2 separate regions of the Homo sapiens genome follow, and region 2 is linked to region 1. Evidence: fine-mapped expression QTL. Tissue or cell type: whole blood. Region 1 holds a variant in brackets; the other region holds the start of a gene. All regions are shown on one strand. Distances are between the middles of the regions.

Region 1 (8,105 bases):
TGAACTGGGGGTGAGGCAGGCACGTGGACAGACCAAGCTGGGTGCGAGCATGTAAAGAGCCTCAACGATGGGCTTGAACTCCATGAGTCATCCAGACCACCAGGCTGGTGAGAAAAGCTGCTTTCCCACTAATAGATGCAGAGGTTATGGGGTTCTCCAGCACGGTCAGGTACAGATGCCTCATTTCCACGTGTGACCGGGTGAGTGAGTGTGTGTGAGTGTGTAAGTGTGTGAGTGGGGGACTCTTTACTTCCTCTCCTAGGTTTCCATCTCAGCTCACCAAATAGAAGTTCCACTTACACTTCAGCAAGGAGTGGCCACTTCCATCACTGAAACCTGCCACCAATAGGGTCCCTCTTACTAGTGGGTGCAGTCCCTCCCTCCAAAGCAACAAATGCATTCTGTGCTCTCTTGGGCCCCTGGCCCCGCCTGAACTCAGGCACGGCTTGTTCTTCTTCTGAGCCTCCTGGGAGCTGATGGAAGGGAGGTCAGCCCACAGCCTGGCTGGGCCTTGGTCATCTGGCTTCCGGCTTCATGATTTAATGGCTCACTTGGGAAACTGAAATCTAGGAGCCATGAGGGTGATGGTGGGGACAGGAGGAAGCTCAGATGTAAGTCGATCCCCCAACATGGTTTGCAGGGAGCCCCTTCTTTGGGTGATAAAGCCAGCACATTAGCCCCGCTTGCCTGCGCGGTCTGTGTTTGCACGCTATTGGCCGGCACCAGAAGGAGAGGGGGGTACTGGCGCCAAACCGCTGACCACCCAAACCCATGAGCCCTGTGTGGCCTCACCTCCCACTGGGTCTCCTCCAGCGCGGGGCCGAAGCTGGTCTTCTCCCTCTCGTAGGACCTGAGCTTGGTCTCCAGCAGGTCCTGCTCCTTCATGAGGCTCTCGAGCTCCTGCCGGAGCTGCCGCTTCTCCTGCTGAAGCTGCAGTACCTGCAGGTGCAGGACCTGCTGCGCGCGCTGGCTCTTCTGCGAGGCCTGCTTGAGCTTGTTGCCGCCTTTGGGCTCCGGGCCCTCCAGCTCGTCCCTGCAGCGCCGCGGCCGCTCCTCGTAGGCCAGGCTGGAGGCAAGCTCCTTCTCCTCAAAGCTGCGCTGCAGCTTCTGGAGGGCGCCCTCCCTCTCCAACAGCTTCTGCTCCAGCTCCTGGATGCTGCACTCGTCCGTGGAGATGGGGGAGCGGACACACGAGGGGCCCTTGTCTGCCTTGTTCGAGTGGCCCAGCTTGCTACCTCCGTCGGAGAAGGACAGAGCCTTCAGGCTCATCATGTTGCTGTCCTGGAGGACGATGCCCTGGGTGATGTTGTGGGCGGAGCCCCCAAAACGGCTTGTGGGTCCCACGGGTGTGACCAGCGGGTCCAGCTGGTAGCTGCTGCTGGTGCTGTGTGTGGGCAGGCTGGACATGGAGTTCCGGCCGGAGTCTGACAGCGCCCCAGAGCACAGGCCAGGCTTCAGCTCCTGCTCCTTGGGCTTGTCTGGAGGGGCGGGGTGCAGCTGGTGGCTGGCACTCTCCGGGGAGGAGTGCAGGATGGCTCCTGACCGTGGCAGCACAGGCTTGAAGGCTGTGGGCCTCACTGCACCCTTCTCGGAGCCCTGTAGAGGAAAAGGACCGCGGTGACTCATGCCTCCCCTGCGCGCGCATTGCACCCTCCCTCCCCAGGCACGCGTGCCGACCTTGAGCCAGTCTGGGCTCTCTGAGCGCACGCAGCACCCCTCTTGGTCAATTGTCTCAGCAGACCTTGCCTGTTGCTTTGAAGCAGCTGAATGTCATCTCTCTTAGGAAGGAAAAACCCTAATGGCGACTTGGGCACTTTGTTCTATGAAATAGCAACCTGCCACCAGCTTGCCCCAGCCCTCCCGAGGTGATAAATACCATCTTGAGGCTCCTGCTCTAGGTCTCTGTGTGGGGCAAGTTAGGGCATCAGGCTGGCCGAGCTTGCTGTCCCTCTTTAGGTCCATCCCTTCTTCCTGTTCACTGCCTCTTCCATTAAGCCTGGAGCAAGGACACGGACCTGGCCTCCTTACAGGGTTGGGAGGCTCACTCCAAATCACGATCCTTTTTTAAAACTGTAATTTTCCCTGGTAGAGTGCTTCACAGTTTACAAGCCCCTTAATTTGAAAAGCTGAATGCTCTATGCAAACATAAGAGGCTCTTTCCTAGTAAATCAAAGCCGGGGATTCATTTCCCCAGGGCAAGGGGCAGAGGACTGAATAGGAAAATTGATTTCAGTGTCCACTCGTGGGACGCACGAGGGCTTGAGCTGGTGTGAGGGCTGGATTTCTCAGTGCCTGGGCCTCCTTTGCCCTAATCTCTGGTAAATGGATGACAAAACTCCAGCCTGTATTCAAAGATGCCCCCAGGCGCAGCTTGAACAAGGAGCTAATGCACACCAGGGCAGCAAATGAGAAGACCGCACCCACCCCCACGAGTCTCCCGGGGAGAGAAGCGGTTAACTCCCGGCCTGCATCCTCTTCATCTGTGCTTCCAGATGAGAACAGGGCTCCCTCTCCTTCCCGAGGCTTGGCAAACGCCTGGATCCTACGTTGACAATCCAGCTACATTTCAGTGGGACTCCAGAAAGCTCACATATCCCCTGTGCTCTTTGCTTATGGCCTGACCCAAGACTTCTGCTTCAGGGGGACTGAGCGATGCTCTAATTCCTTTGTGAAACGTTTGATCTCTGCGGTGTGGCCACAGGCTTCCGCCGGCACCCCTGCCGCTCTGGTTTTGAGGAGTCTGAATGCTCAGGTCACCACTCCCCCTGAACCCCCAGGCTCTCCACCCCCATTTTGCTTTCTCCTGCGTTTCCAACCCACTTACCCTTGCCAGCGACCCCCGCTTACCATTTCTAGCTGATTGGAGAAGGGCATGAGCTTGGGGGGTGTGGACGGGTCAAAGTCCACCCCAGCCTGGCCCCCTAAATCCCCGCTGGACAGTGCCGTGTAATCTGGGTGATGGGAGCCCCGGGCTTTCTGGCTGACCTTGATGTAGAAGAAGTCTTCGCTCTTGCCCATTTTGGAGCTGGACTTGCCGTGACCGGAGTCCTGGGAGAAGCCAAACCTCAGCAGCCCGTCGGAATACCGGTTGAGCTTCTTGAGGTGGGAGGACTTGCGCAGCTTGTACTGCGAAGCCCGGCAGTGCTTGCTGTGGAAGCTGTGGCCGGAGATGAGGCTACTGACGCTGCCCATGGTGACTCGGGGCTGAGGATGGGGCAGGGCCGGGCAGGGTCTTGGAAAGGCTGTGGCAGCAAGGGGCAGTCGTGGCTCCGTGAGGGGACTGAGGTCATAGCAAAGCCCTCACAGAGCCTGCGAGAGCCGTAGACCTGGAAGAAGACACAAGACAGAAGTCAGCGTGGGTGGGAGTGGTCACAGCACAGTGCTGATTCCGACTTCCAGATCTGGGCAGTAGAGAAACACATGTCAGAGCCCAGCACTGTCTCCACCACCGGGTGCTCCGTTCCTTCTTCCTTTGTCTGATAATTCAACAAACATTCACTGGGAGCCCACTTCATGCAAGCCTCTACTCTAAACACTCGGGACCCAGCAAGTGACTAAAACAGTCACAGTCCCTGCATTCCTGGAACTTAGGGTTACAGTGGTGTGGAGAGGCCAGAAGCAAACCAATGTATACTATAGCAAGTGGTACCAGTGCTGCGGGTACCAGTGCTGCGGGTACCAGTGCTGCGGGGGAAACTGGAGCAGAGAGGACAGAACAGAATTCTGGGAGGTGGCTGTTTTATGCAGGAAGGTCTTCTTTTGTTAGGGTAGCATTTTAAAAGGCTTCAAGAAAATGAGGGGGCAGCCAGGCATGATGGTTCACACCTGTAATCCCAGCACTCTGGGAGGCTGAGGTGGGCAGATTGCTTGAGTCCAGGAGTTCGAGACCAGCCTGTGCAACTTAGAGAAACCCCATTTCTACTAAAAATACAAAAATTAGCCGGGCGTAGTGGTGCACACCTGTAATCCCAGCTACTTGGGAGGGTGAGGTGGGAGAATCGTCTGAGCCCCGGGGATCAAGGCTGCAGTGAGCCACAATTGTGCCACTGCACTCCAGCCTGGGCCTGACTCAAAAAAAAAAAAAAAAAAAAAAAAGAAGAAGAAGAAAAGAAAATGAGGTGCAAGTCATATGAAAATCTAGGGGGAGAGGGGTACCAGAAGAAACCCCAAGTATAAAAGCCTGAGTCCCTGAGGCAGAGGGGGCTTGGCTGTGTGAGACCCACATGGGAAGCAGCCTGGCTGGAGAACAATTAGCAAGGCTGGGAAGGAGAAACAGAAACCAGGAGCCAGCAGACATCAGAGAACAAGGAGGCTGTGCAGCTCAAAGAGCTCTGGCTTTGCTTGGGTTGAGACAAGGAGCCCCTGGATGGCTTTAAGCAGCTGACACCTTGATCTGCCTTAGGTTGGGGAAGGTCACTCTGGCTTCCGGGTGGGGAAGAAGCTTATTGAGGAGACGGGGGATAGAAGTGGTGGCCAATTACAGGCTAATAGTCTAGGGTGGTAGTTGTGGATTTAGATGTGGTGGTGGCTCACGTCTGTAATCCCAGCATTTTGGGAGGCCAAGGCAGGAGGATCACTTGAGGCCAGGAGTTCAAGACCAGCCTGGGCAACACAGTGAGACCCTGTCTCTAAAAAACAGTTTTCAATGTAATTTTGAGGTTGAGCTGACAGGACTTGCTAAAGGATCAGATGTAGGGAGTGAGCGAAAGAGAGGAGTCAGGGACAATGCCAAAGAGAGGAGTTTGGTTGAAGACATTCAGTTTGCAAAGCCTATTTGGCATCCAGGGAGTGATGGAGAGTAGGCAGGAGGGTGAGTGGGCAGCTGCTGGGAGCTGCAGATGCACTTGTCAGAGCTGGGAGTGTGGAAGTGGCTATGAGACTAGATGGGGTCACCAAAGAGCGGATGCAGAAAGACAAGAGAGGCCTGAGGATGGTTAACATGGAGCACTCGGCATCTGGAGGTCAGGCAGGTTAGGAGAAGTGAAAAAGAGCAGCAGAGAAGGTTTTCAGGGTGATGT[C/G]GATATAGAAGACCTAAGAAAGCCAAGTCAAGAAATTGTTTCCTAAAAATGGTGTCAAATGGCCAGGCGCAATGGCTCAAGCCTGTAATCCCAGCACTTTGGGAGGCCAAGGTGGGCAGATCACTTGAGGTCAAGGGTTTGAAACCAGCCTGGCTAACATGGTGGAACCCCGTCTCTACTAAAAATATAAAAAATTAGCCAGGCAAATTGGGCATGGTGGCACGCACCTGTAGTCCCAGCTACTGAGGAAGCTGAGGCATGAGAATAGCTTGAACCCAGGAGGCGGAGGTTGCAGTGAGCTGAGATCACGCCACTGCACTCCAGCCTGGGCAACAGACTGAGTTCCTGTCTCAAAAAAAAAAGTTGTCAAGTGCTGCTGAAAGTAAGATAACAATTGAGAATTAGTCAATGCATTTGGCCATGTGGAGATCTTTGGTAACCTTGACAAGAGCAGTTTTGGAGGAATGGTGGAAGGAAGGCCTCATTGAGAAGATTCAAGAGAGAAAGAAGGAGAAAGTCATTACAGCCTTAATGTTGAGAAGTACCCAGCCGACTTGGTGTGCATTCTAGTTACATCACCTGCCAGCTATGACATGGAAGGTAAACTGTTTAATATCTTTAACCTTCAGTGTTACAAACTAATTCTAAGACACCCTTAAACTTTTTTTTTTTTTTTTTTTGAGATAGAGTCTCACTCTGTTGCCCAGGCTGGAGTGCAGTGGCATGATCTTGGCTCACTGCAACCTCCACCTCGCGGGTTCAAATGATTCTCCCACCTCAGTCTCCCACATAGCTGGGATTACAGGTGAGCACCACCATGACTGGCTGGCTAATCTTTGTATTTTTAGTAGAGATGGGGTTTTCCCATGTTGGCCAGGCTGGTCTCGAACTCCTGACCTCAGGTGATCCACCTGCCTAGGCCTCCCAAAGTGCCGGGATTATAGGCGTGAGCCACCGGACTGGGCACATTTTTTTTTTAAAGTAATAGGATAGCATCTAATAATCAATGCTTAAACAATAACAACCTTGTCAGTCACCAGACAGGAGAAATTGGGATGTCAGTGCCAGCACATGTGCAGATTCAGGCAAATCTCTAAGTTTAGATCACACAATTTTCAAAGCTAGGAAAGGTTGGTGATTGTCATGCACTGTGAAGTATTTCTTAGTCAAAAGACAGATATCCAATTAAGAAGGGGAAAGCCACAAGTTTAATAAAACAGGAGATGTGGAAGGAGCCTCTGTTCTTCGCTGAGCTCTAAATTATACCATCCATCCTAAAGGGGCTAAAGAAATCCCAGGTGGGACATGGAGAACTGCATGGGCACAGCTGAAAGGGAGCCAGAAACTTTCTGACTCTGTTTTTTAATTTTAATTTTATTATATATATATTTTTTACAATTAGCAGTTGTGCATGGAGACTCTGTGACTCTGAATATCTAGGCTTCGATTCAAACTTGCGTTATCATCCTGAAGAATAAAGAGGTTATGTTATGAATATGTTCTATATTTTGTTAGGAAAAGCATGACACAACAAAACTTCGTTGTGTAAGTTTAATATGTTTTGATGTGAAAAGCTTTTATTGAATTGATGGCTTTGTATACTCGAGGAAATACAGTGAAGCAGCCTACCTCATAGGATCGTTATGAGAAATTTAAGAAATACCACCATAAGATAACAGCTCTGGAACATTTACTCAATACTTAGTACATAGTGGGCACTCAATAAATGCTAGGCAGTGTTATCGGTATCTGTTACTTATATTGTGACCATTGTCCTTGCCAACATCCATCATCCCTATGGATCTGGGGAGCCTCAATGTCCAAACTCACTTTCCAGAGCTAATCCTTTCCTTCTAAATGCAACCTTTCTGCCTCCCATTCCTGCGAGGTGTGACTTAGGAGCACAGGGTGGCTCTGCTGATATAAACTTGACACTGACAAAATGTGTTTTCATCCCCCTAGGTCATCCATCCCTAGCTTAGCTAACACCTCTAGTTCCTATGGGGCGAAAATACTACTCTGGTCCACATGCAGGGGTGTCATTTTGGGCCAAAAGACCCTCCCGTGCTCTGCGCAATATGCTCAGCTCCTCCTTTTTTTGCCATGCAATACACATTGCCGAGCAGCTGTACCTGCAGGGCTGTACAGACCAGACCATCAGCTGTGGCATCGGCAGGAGTTTGATTTGAAAATCAATCTCTCTGAGGTTTCTTCATTTACAAACTGAAAATATTAATATTAAATAGGAACATTAGGGAGCCGAAACAAACAGAAGGAAAATACAAGGCCTGGCATGTAGTAGGCGATCTACAGATGTGTGCACGATATGTGTTGCCTTCAAGCCTATGACACCGCTGGAGGCTATTGACAGTATCAGTGCATCGGTGCTAAATGAATCTGTTTATGGTTCTCATCCATCTCCTCTCACCTCCATCTCCTCTCACCTGGGCCTTGAAGGAGCCTCCCAATGTCTTTCCCCAGTCTGTTCATCAGACACATCTGAAGCGTCCAGGTCATAGCACTTCCTAATGGGAACCCTTCCAGTCTTCCCACTGTGTTAGAGTACAATGCGGACTCCTCACCTTGTCCCGCCATGTCCCAGGGACAGACACACTCATCTCTTTCCTGGTGGGTGAACATACGAAGTCTTGACCCATCCAGGAGACTCTGCACTTGCTGCTGCTTCCCCTGCCTGGAATTCTCCTCCTTGGGCTCTTCACATACATCAGCCTTTCTCATTTTCTAGTTCTCAACTTGAGTCTCATGTCTGCAAGGTGGCTTTCTCCAGTTAATCTTGAAACCCTTGCATCCCTCCCCGATTACTTTCTACCAACCTGTTTATTCCCTGTGTAAGGCTTGCTCTCACCTGTACTAATCTTATTATTTTTTATTTATTTTTAAATTTTAGAAACAGAGTCTCATTCTGTCATCCAAGCTGGACTGCAGTAGGTAACAGTGATCACAGCTCACTGCAGCCTCCAGCTGCTGGGCTCAAGTGATCTTCCCACCTTAGCCCCAGAGTAGATGGGATGACGGCACATACCATTACTCCTGGCTAATTAAATAATTCTTTTGTAGAGACAGGGG
Region 2 (8,105 bases), 48 kb after region 1:
TGCCAAAGGTCTCTGAGAGCTCTCATCTTTCCCCTTACCTTATTAAACAAGCATTTACTAAGGGCATACTCATAGTATCTACTGAAAGCCAACACTGTATTTTTTTTTTCTTTTTTGAGACGGAGTCTCTCTCTGTTGCCCAGACTGGAGTGCAGTGATGTGATCTCGGCTCACTGCAAGCTCCCCCTCCCGGGTTCACGCCATTCTCCTGCCTCAGCCTCCCAAGTAGCTGGGACTACAGGTGCCCGCCACGACGCCCGGCTAATTTTTTGTATTTTTAGTAGAGACGGTGTTTCACCGTGTTAGCCAGGATGGTCTCGATCTCCTGACCTCGTGATCCACCTGCCTCAGCCTCCCAAAGTGCTGAGATTACAAGCGTGAGCCACAGCGCCCCGCCGCCAACACTGTATTTTGAGCTGGGAACTCATGATGCAATCTCTGCTTCTAGGAGTTTTGTAGACTCCTCAGGAGCCAGTGAGTAAATGCCATAATATACTGGTATGATGGTAGGGACTCTGAGGAAGGTACCTGACTCAGAATTGAGGAAAAAACAGAGGAAACTTTCTTGGAGGAGTTGATCCCTATGGTTAAAACCCACAGTGGGGCTGGGTGTGGTGGCTCCTGCCTGTAATCCCAACACTTTGGGAGGCTGAGGCCAGCAGATCACTTGAGGTCAGGAGTTCAAGACCAGCCTGACCAGCATGACAAAACCCCATCTCTACTAAAAATATAAAAGATTAGCCAGGCGTGGTGGCAGGCGCCTATAGTCCCAGCTACTTGTGAGGGTGAGGCAGGAGAACTGCTTGAACCCAGGAGGTGGAGGTTGCGGTGAGCCAAGATCGCACCACTGCACTCCAGCCTGGGCGACAGAGCAAGACTCCGTCTCAAAAAAAAAAAAAAAAAAAAAAAAAGTGGGAGCCAGTTAAGTGGAGAAGGTAGAGAGACCAGGCAGGAATATTCCATGCAGAAGAAACAGTGTTTCTATGTTCAAAGGTAGCAGAATAACATGGACAGAGCCAGGGTCCAGAACCTTACTAAGCTGATCTCAAATCCCTGCCCCTCGGTTTTGTAGCCTGGCTAAATTACTTAACTCTCCTCATCTAATAATTATACATACCCCGCAGGGCTGCAGTGAAAATTAAATGAGATAATGAATAAAAAGTTCCAGGCACACAGTGGATTTAGTGGCTGGCATTAAGTGTTACGGTATTATCCATTACACTGGTCTATAAGGTGCTTACCCATAGGTCTGTCATCATTACATTATTCATCTTCCTAGCCTCGCTGCACAGCTCAGAGCCTTGCATTTGGTAGGCGCCCAATGAATATTTATGAAATGAACGTTGAATAAGCGCAAAGGCATATAAATAAGTTTTCAGGATTAGAAAGCCATTTATATACGTCTGGAGCCCATGTATAGCTTTGCTATACACGCTGACCCACGGCTTCTCAAAACTGAAAGGCACATCTTTCCCTCACACACTCCCAAAGCATTGGCTTTCCCCAGGGCACCCCACGCAGCAGCACTCCTTCTATGACAGCACCCCTGCCCCACATCGACCCAGGCACACACAGCTGGGGGCACCTCCTGCAGATACACAAATGCACAAGCTGAACTGCTGAGACAGGTTTACCTCGTGAAGCACACAGCCGCTGCTATAAATGTTAACTAACAACCATCTTCAGCACATCAAATGTCCCGCCCTCCCTTTTGCTTGCATATAGACACCCACAGAGATGCCCGTTCTTTTTCTACTAGTTTTCTTCTCTTCTTAAGCAGAGTGAGCGCCCCACACTCACATCCACCCAGCTGAGACCTCTTACTAGGACTCCCAGTTGCTCCATCCTATTAGCTGTGGGACCTTAGGGAAAGCCTTTCCCTTCTGACGCCTCCGTTTCTTCACTGGCAGGCACAGAGAGCCCACCGCACCAACCTGGTAGTTATGTTGTGAGGATAAAGGAGATAACGTATGAGATAACGTCTATGATGAGCAGAAAGAGCCTCCAAAGAAAAGCGCTGGATAAATACAAGGTGTAACGCCACGCCTGATTAGCCTGCATGCTCTCTGCCCACAGACTTCTACCCACAGACTATGTTCCACTCCACTCTTAAACACAAACACCTTTCCCGTCTGTACATGCTATCTCTAATACCCATATGCGCACACTCTTCGGGCACCTCCATTCTCCCTCTGGATGCCTGCAGAAAATTGTTTTTGAACTTAGAGAAAGCTCAGGTTGCAAACACCCTCTTGCCGGTACCCGCAGACTCTTCTCAGGGTCTTGGTGCAGGAACTGCCAAGCAGATAGCTCATCTCTTTGTGGCTGGGCTCCTGGGCTCCCAGCATTCCTATTAGGCTGCACTTCCAGCAGAGTGTGGGATCCTTATTAGGAGCAGCGCCTGCCCGGCATGGTCCAGAACTCAGTGCCTCCTCAGTACTTTCCCAGCGCCCGGGACCAGAGAGTAGAGGGGCTGATGGCAGCGGGACGGTGTGGAGGGAATAAGTGAGACAGGAAACACTTTAGGAGGCCAGATCCCTAAGCACTTCTTATTCCTGGGAAATTGAAGACTGCGAAGCTAACAAGTCTGGAGCACTTTCCCAGGCCTGACATACTCGTGGGCGAGCACAAGGCTCATTTGCTCCACAGTTCAAACCTTTCCACTTGGAGCACGAAAAAGAGACATCACCTGGCCCTTGGTGTCTCGGGGATGCCTGTTGCTGCCAAGCTGCGACCTCTGAAGCCCCTCCAGCCAGAGCAAAGCCTGTGGCAGGGTGGAGGGGTGAGGTCTGGCTGCCTAGGGTGGCGGTGGAAGAAGTGAAGGTAGTGTGGGGCTGTCTGTGTGTGCATGGTGCTTTGACTAAATTCCTGAATTGCACATCCAGGACCGACCCCAGGAAGCTGCAGCCCCAGGGAGCCACTTAGACACTTCGATTTACCACCTTCCTCTCTAACCACCTCCGCCCGTGTGACTTATTCCTTGAGGGAAACCTTTCAAATCTCTGGCTGCAACGCACCGGTGTCCTCCCCACCGGTGTGGACACAGCTCATCTGCAAAGTTCCAGGCGGCGAAGTTCAGCGGCCCGGACCGACCGCCGGACCCTCTTCCTGCGGCCCCTGCTCCTGCGGCCTCGCGTCCCCACCTCCCACTTCTTCACCTCCGACACCAGTGTCACCTAACACTGACGTCCCCGCCAGGATCAGCATCGGTGCTGGGAATAGACGAACCCCGTCTGCAGGAGACACGAAGACAAAGACAGGAGGACAGACGCACAGTCACCTCCTCTGGGCCGGGCCGGAGAAGCGGCGCCCACCCTGCAGAGGGGAGACCCTGACAGCTCCACGCGGAGACAAAGACACCTCGACAGCCACGGACACAGACAGACAAAGACCGACGGACGCGCGGACGCACGGACGGTCCGGCCCGGCGAGGGGAAAGCGGTTTCCCGCAGCCAGGGCAGCAGACCCTCCAGGGGCGAGGAGATCCCCGGCCACCGCACCTTACCTGCCCCCTGCGCCTCGGGCGCACTTGAGACTTTTTTTTTTTCCCAGTGTTTCCCGGTGTGTTCCCGTCTCTCTTTTTCCAGAGCTGCTGAGCGGGCCGGGCCGGTCCCACTGCGCGGGATGCAGCTCCCGGCTCCCACTCACTGGCCGAGGCGGGCAGAGAAACTTTCGGCCTCCCCGCCCGGCCGCTGCCAACCCGCCAGCTCCAGGCGCGCCGGCCTCTGCGCGGGTCCCGGAGCCGGGGCGGGGCGGGGCGGGGCGGGGCGGGGCGGGGCCGGCCCGGGGCGGGGCCAGAGCCGGCGCCGCTGATTGGCAGCGAGCTGCCGGCAGCCTGGTCTGTGCCGCTCGGCGGCCTTTGTTCCGGGCTGACAGCTGGGGCTGCTCGCGACCTCGCGGCTCCTTCGCGCCCGCGGCCTGCGCGGGGTCCCGGGTCCCGTCTCTCTGCTCTCACTTCCATCAGCCCCATTGGGCGACCCTGCCCCCTCAGTCTTCCTTTCTTGCCTGGCCCCCTTTCTCCGATTGTTCCTGTCTTGCTCTTGTCGCATCCTTTTTTCCCTTTCATTACCTGAAATTCTTACTCCAGTTTTGTTTAAAATCCATTCCTTCTCCCGTTCTGTGTATGTTCCCCTTTCTTCATTACCCCTTCCTCTTAATCGCCAGTTTATTTTTCTTAATACCGTCTCTCCCGCTCCCGACTCGCACTAAAGGGCGTGTGTTTTGTTCAAGGACTGGACTAGCACCCAAGTGAGGGGCATTGCGAACCACACCAGGATTACAGGCTAGAGTCCAGAGCACCGGGACTCCCACTCCCAAAACATGTCAAAAGCAAACTTTTCCAGCTCTGAGGGAGCTGAGTTTCAGGTGACAGCAGAGGCCTGTTTCAAGTTTATAGCTATTAGTCTCACCCAGTCCCCTTATAATACTATCATTTTCTCAACCACCCTCACTTTTAACTTCTAGCAACTGAGCCAGGAGAGGATTCAAGCTTACAAGGTTTTGTAGGACAAAGGGTCAGTTAACCGGAGTGCTAGGTGCAGCATGAGGCTTGGGGGCTTGAGGGTGCACTGAGGCTAATCCTCTAAAACCAGGCTTGGCGGGAAGATGGCAGCTCTGCCCAAGGAGTGTTAGCCTCATCTTGAAAGAAGCCTGTGTGTGTGTGTGTGTGTGTGTGTGTGTGTGTGTGTGTGTGTTGGGGGGTGGGGGATAGATGTAATGGATTAGGATTGACATAGCCGATCTGATTATAAATAGCATGGGGGCCGGACGCGGTGGCTCATGCCTGTAATCTCAGCACTTTGGGAGGCCGAGGTTGGTGGATCACTTGAGGTCAGGAGTTGAAGACCAGCCTGGCCAACATGGTGAAACCCCGTCTCTACTAAAAAAAAAAAAAAAAAAAAATACAAAAATTAGCTGGGTGTGGTGGCAGGAGCCTGTAATCCCAGCTACTTGGGAGGCTGAGGCTTGGGAATTGCTTGAGCCTGGAAGGCAGAGGTTGCAGTGAGCCAAGATAGTGCCACTGCACTCCAGCCTGGGTGACAGAGTGACACCGTGTCTCAAAATAAATAAATAAATAAATAAATACAAAAAAATTAAATAGAATTGTGGTGGCAGGGGGGACAGCTCAAAGGAAAACAAGCCATATGGTTTCTGCCACACCCCTGCTCAAAACCCTGTAGGGGAATCTCACTGCCTTCGGTTGTTGACCCTGAAGACTCTGACCTTCGAATCTAGGCTTCCTGAAAGATGGCACCGCGAGGGTTTAAGAACACAGACAGGCTTCGCTGCTTGTTATTTGAGCCATTACCTTCCCCTCCCTCTTTCTCAGTTTTTCTTTTTCTTTCTTTCTTTTTTTATTTGTGAAATGAGGTAACAAGTCCCAGTGTAAATTCCCTGAAGGCAGGAACTTGTTCTCTTTTATTGGTGGCTGAGGGACTTGGTCTGTTTTATTCATAGATGTATCCCCGACACCTAGAACTTGCCAGGCAACATAGTAGGCACTCAATATGTATTTGTTAAATGAATGAATTTCTCATGTATAGGTTTGTTCTGATGATTAAATGAAACCCACTGCCTTGCGGTAAGTACATACACGTGGCAGTAATTACAAGCAATACGACAATTTCTAAGTGTCAACCCCAAAGGCTACTCAGCCTTTTCCTGAACATCACCTCCTTTTCCCCACCTTTGTATAAACCTGCCCCTCAGTCTGAAAAGCTTTTCTCCTGCTCTTCTAACTCTACCTCTCAAAATCTGAGACAAAATATGGAACCCTTACTCACACCTTCTCTTATCGTCCAGGGCAAAATAATGTCTTCTTTTTCTAAAGCGCCATGCTTCTTTGTGTTGCATTTATTGACAGAGAACATGTATTCTTGCTTGCTGGTGAGAGTATCTCAAGAATTTTAGCTGAATGAGTTAATATCGATCAAACATTCCAGCGCTTTAAGGAAAGAGCAGACTCCTGGAAGGTAGATTAAGGTATGAGGTGGGCTCCAGACTTCAAACTCATTTTCACATCGTCGGAGGTGAGATTCCATGGAAGAGACAAAGGACTCTGGAAGCCCACTTTTTGTTCTGGCCCTACTGCTGACTATATGCTCTTGGACAAGCCATGTCCCTAATGAGGCCTCAGTTTCCTCATCTGGAAAGTGGATGGTTTGGAGTCCCTGATGAGACCTCAGTTTCCTATCTGGAAAGTGGATGGTTTGGAGTCCCTGATGAGGCCTCAGTTTCCTCATCTGGAAAGTGGATGGTTTGGATGAGAAGATACTCCTTAAGGACCCTCCTTCAGCACTGACACCTTTGTCAGTGACATTCTAGGTGAAAGCTGGGTATGATGTGCAGCCTTCCTGGAATGACTGAGTCAGGCAAAGGGTATGAGCAGTGTGTTGGTTTGTGTATGAGCGGTGGAAATGGGATACCCTATGGAACAACAGAAACACCCTGTGGAAGGGATACTTTAGAGACAGAATGCATAGAGAGTGGGGCTGGAAATGAGAAGGCAGAGTGGAGAAGGAGACCAGTGATGGACAGCACAGCATGTGTGTATGTATTATGGTTCCGTATGTGTGCATGAAAGCCTCAGGAATGTGGTCTCCAGCAGCACAAAGCCATAATTAGCTCCCTGATTCAGCAGTTGGGTATGGTAATGCAATGGCTGGGTGTGTCTACCCCCAACACCACCGGTAGGTTCTCAGTGTGGCTCCTTTTCTTCCTTGTCTAGTGAAGGGGCGCTGCCCTTCCTTAGTGTCTGGGTTCCCGAGAGGTGTCTTATGTGAAACTCTGCATCCCTCAGGCTCTCCCTTGCCTGAGTCGAGTCTAGAAAGCTGGGTCACAAAACATTTCTTGTAAAAATCTCCTACCCTCCTCCTGTATTCATCACCTGAGATACAGAGCATCATGCTTCATCTCTAGGACCTAAGATTGGCCACACTGGACCAGACCCATAGACCAGTTAAGCCAGCAGCTTGTTTGGATTACAGACAACTCTGCCTTCCTCAAGGTACTGTCACCTATCACAATTTAATTAATTCCCTGGCTTCTTGTTTGTCTGTTCATCTCTTCTGCAAGTTTCTTGTTCAAAGATCATGTCTGTCTTAGTCAACATTGAATCCACAGAACTCAGCACATTATTGGTACAAAGCAAGCGCTCAAAAAATACTAGAATGAGTGCTATGAGGGGAGGGAGGCGAGATGATGTTTCAGAGAGATAAATTGACTCAAATTCAGAAAATCCACGTGTATTCCTACTTCTTCCAATCTGCAGTCTTCTCACAACCCTTTGGAGGTTTAGTTTGCTATCAGTGAAAGAAGCCTAATAACATTTTCCCTATCTATCTTTTGGCAACAATACAAAATGAAAAGAATTAATAAAGTCAAAGGTGTTATGAAAAATACAAAATATCAAATAATTTTTTAATATTATTTCAAGTCTCAAAATCCAGGGCCTTGTGTTAAGAGAAAAGAAATGCTGACTATATTTAAGTGAGGTTGGATAATCTCCAAAAGCCGGTGAAAAAATATGAGCCTAGACAACTGAGCAAAGCTTTAAGGAATCAACTGAGGCCACTCCTGATTTCCCAGTGACCCCAGTAAAGGTCCAGGGAGAGCAGTTTTTCTGCAGTCAGAGCCAATGGTCCCATGACCTTAGAAGATGTCTTACCATCCCTGTCTTTTTCCAGGGTAGAAAACAGTTCCCGTGGAGTTGCTTTGAATGTGCAACTTTTATAACAAGAATTTTCATTCCTTACCTGTAGGTCTCTGACCACCTTGAATCTCTTATCTCTGGGCTTCAGGAGACTTGTCTCTGAATTGGAAGGACCATCTCTTTTTTCTTTAAATTTATTTATTTATTTTTTATTTTTTTTGAGACGGAGTCTCGCTCTGTCGCCCAGACTGGAGTGCAGTGGTGCCATCTCGGCTCACTGCAAGCTCCGCCTCCCGGGTTCATGCCATTCTCCTGCCTCAGCCTCCCGAGTAGCTGGGACTACAGGCGCCCACCACCACGCCCGGCTAATTTTTTGTATTTTTAGTAGAGACGGGGTTTCACTGTGTTAGTCAGGATGGTCTCGATCTCCTGACCTTGTGATCCGCCCACCTCG

Evidence for each region. PIP is the estimated chance that this variant, and not a neighbour inherited with it, causes the effect.
Region 2: it holds the start of LZTS1, and the variant in region 1 is fine-mapped to the expression of LZTS1 in whole blood (INTERVAL, PIP above 0.99).

Annotation. Positions count from the first base shown.
Region 1 is chr8:20,251,990-20,260,094 of GRCh38, forward strand. It overlaps LZTS1 (leucine zipper tumor suppressor 1), which reads right to left. Exons shown (of 4, transcript NM_021020.5): 2 at 2,848-3,326; 3 at 793-1,596. The coding sequence starts at 3,192. Among named protein-coding and RNA genes, the nearest start is that of LZTS1-AS1, 20 kb to the right of the region's middle. RefSeq lists a silencer at 3,343-3,526. The variant C/G (reference allele first, on the strand shown) is at 5,019.
Region 2 is chr8:20,300,235-20,308,339 of GRCh38, forward strand. It overlaps LZTS1 (leucine zipper tumor suppressor 1), which reads right to left and starts at 3,729. Exons shown (of 4, transcript NM_021020.5): 1 at 3,506-3,729. RefSeq lists a silencer at 3,719-3,788.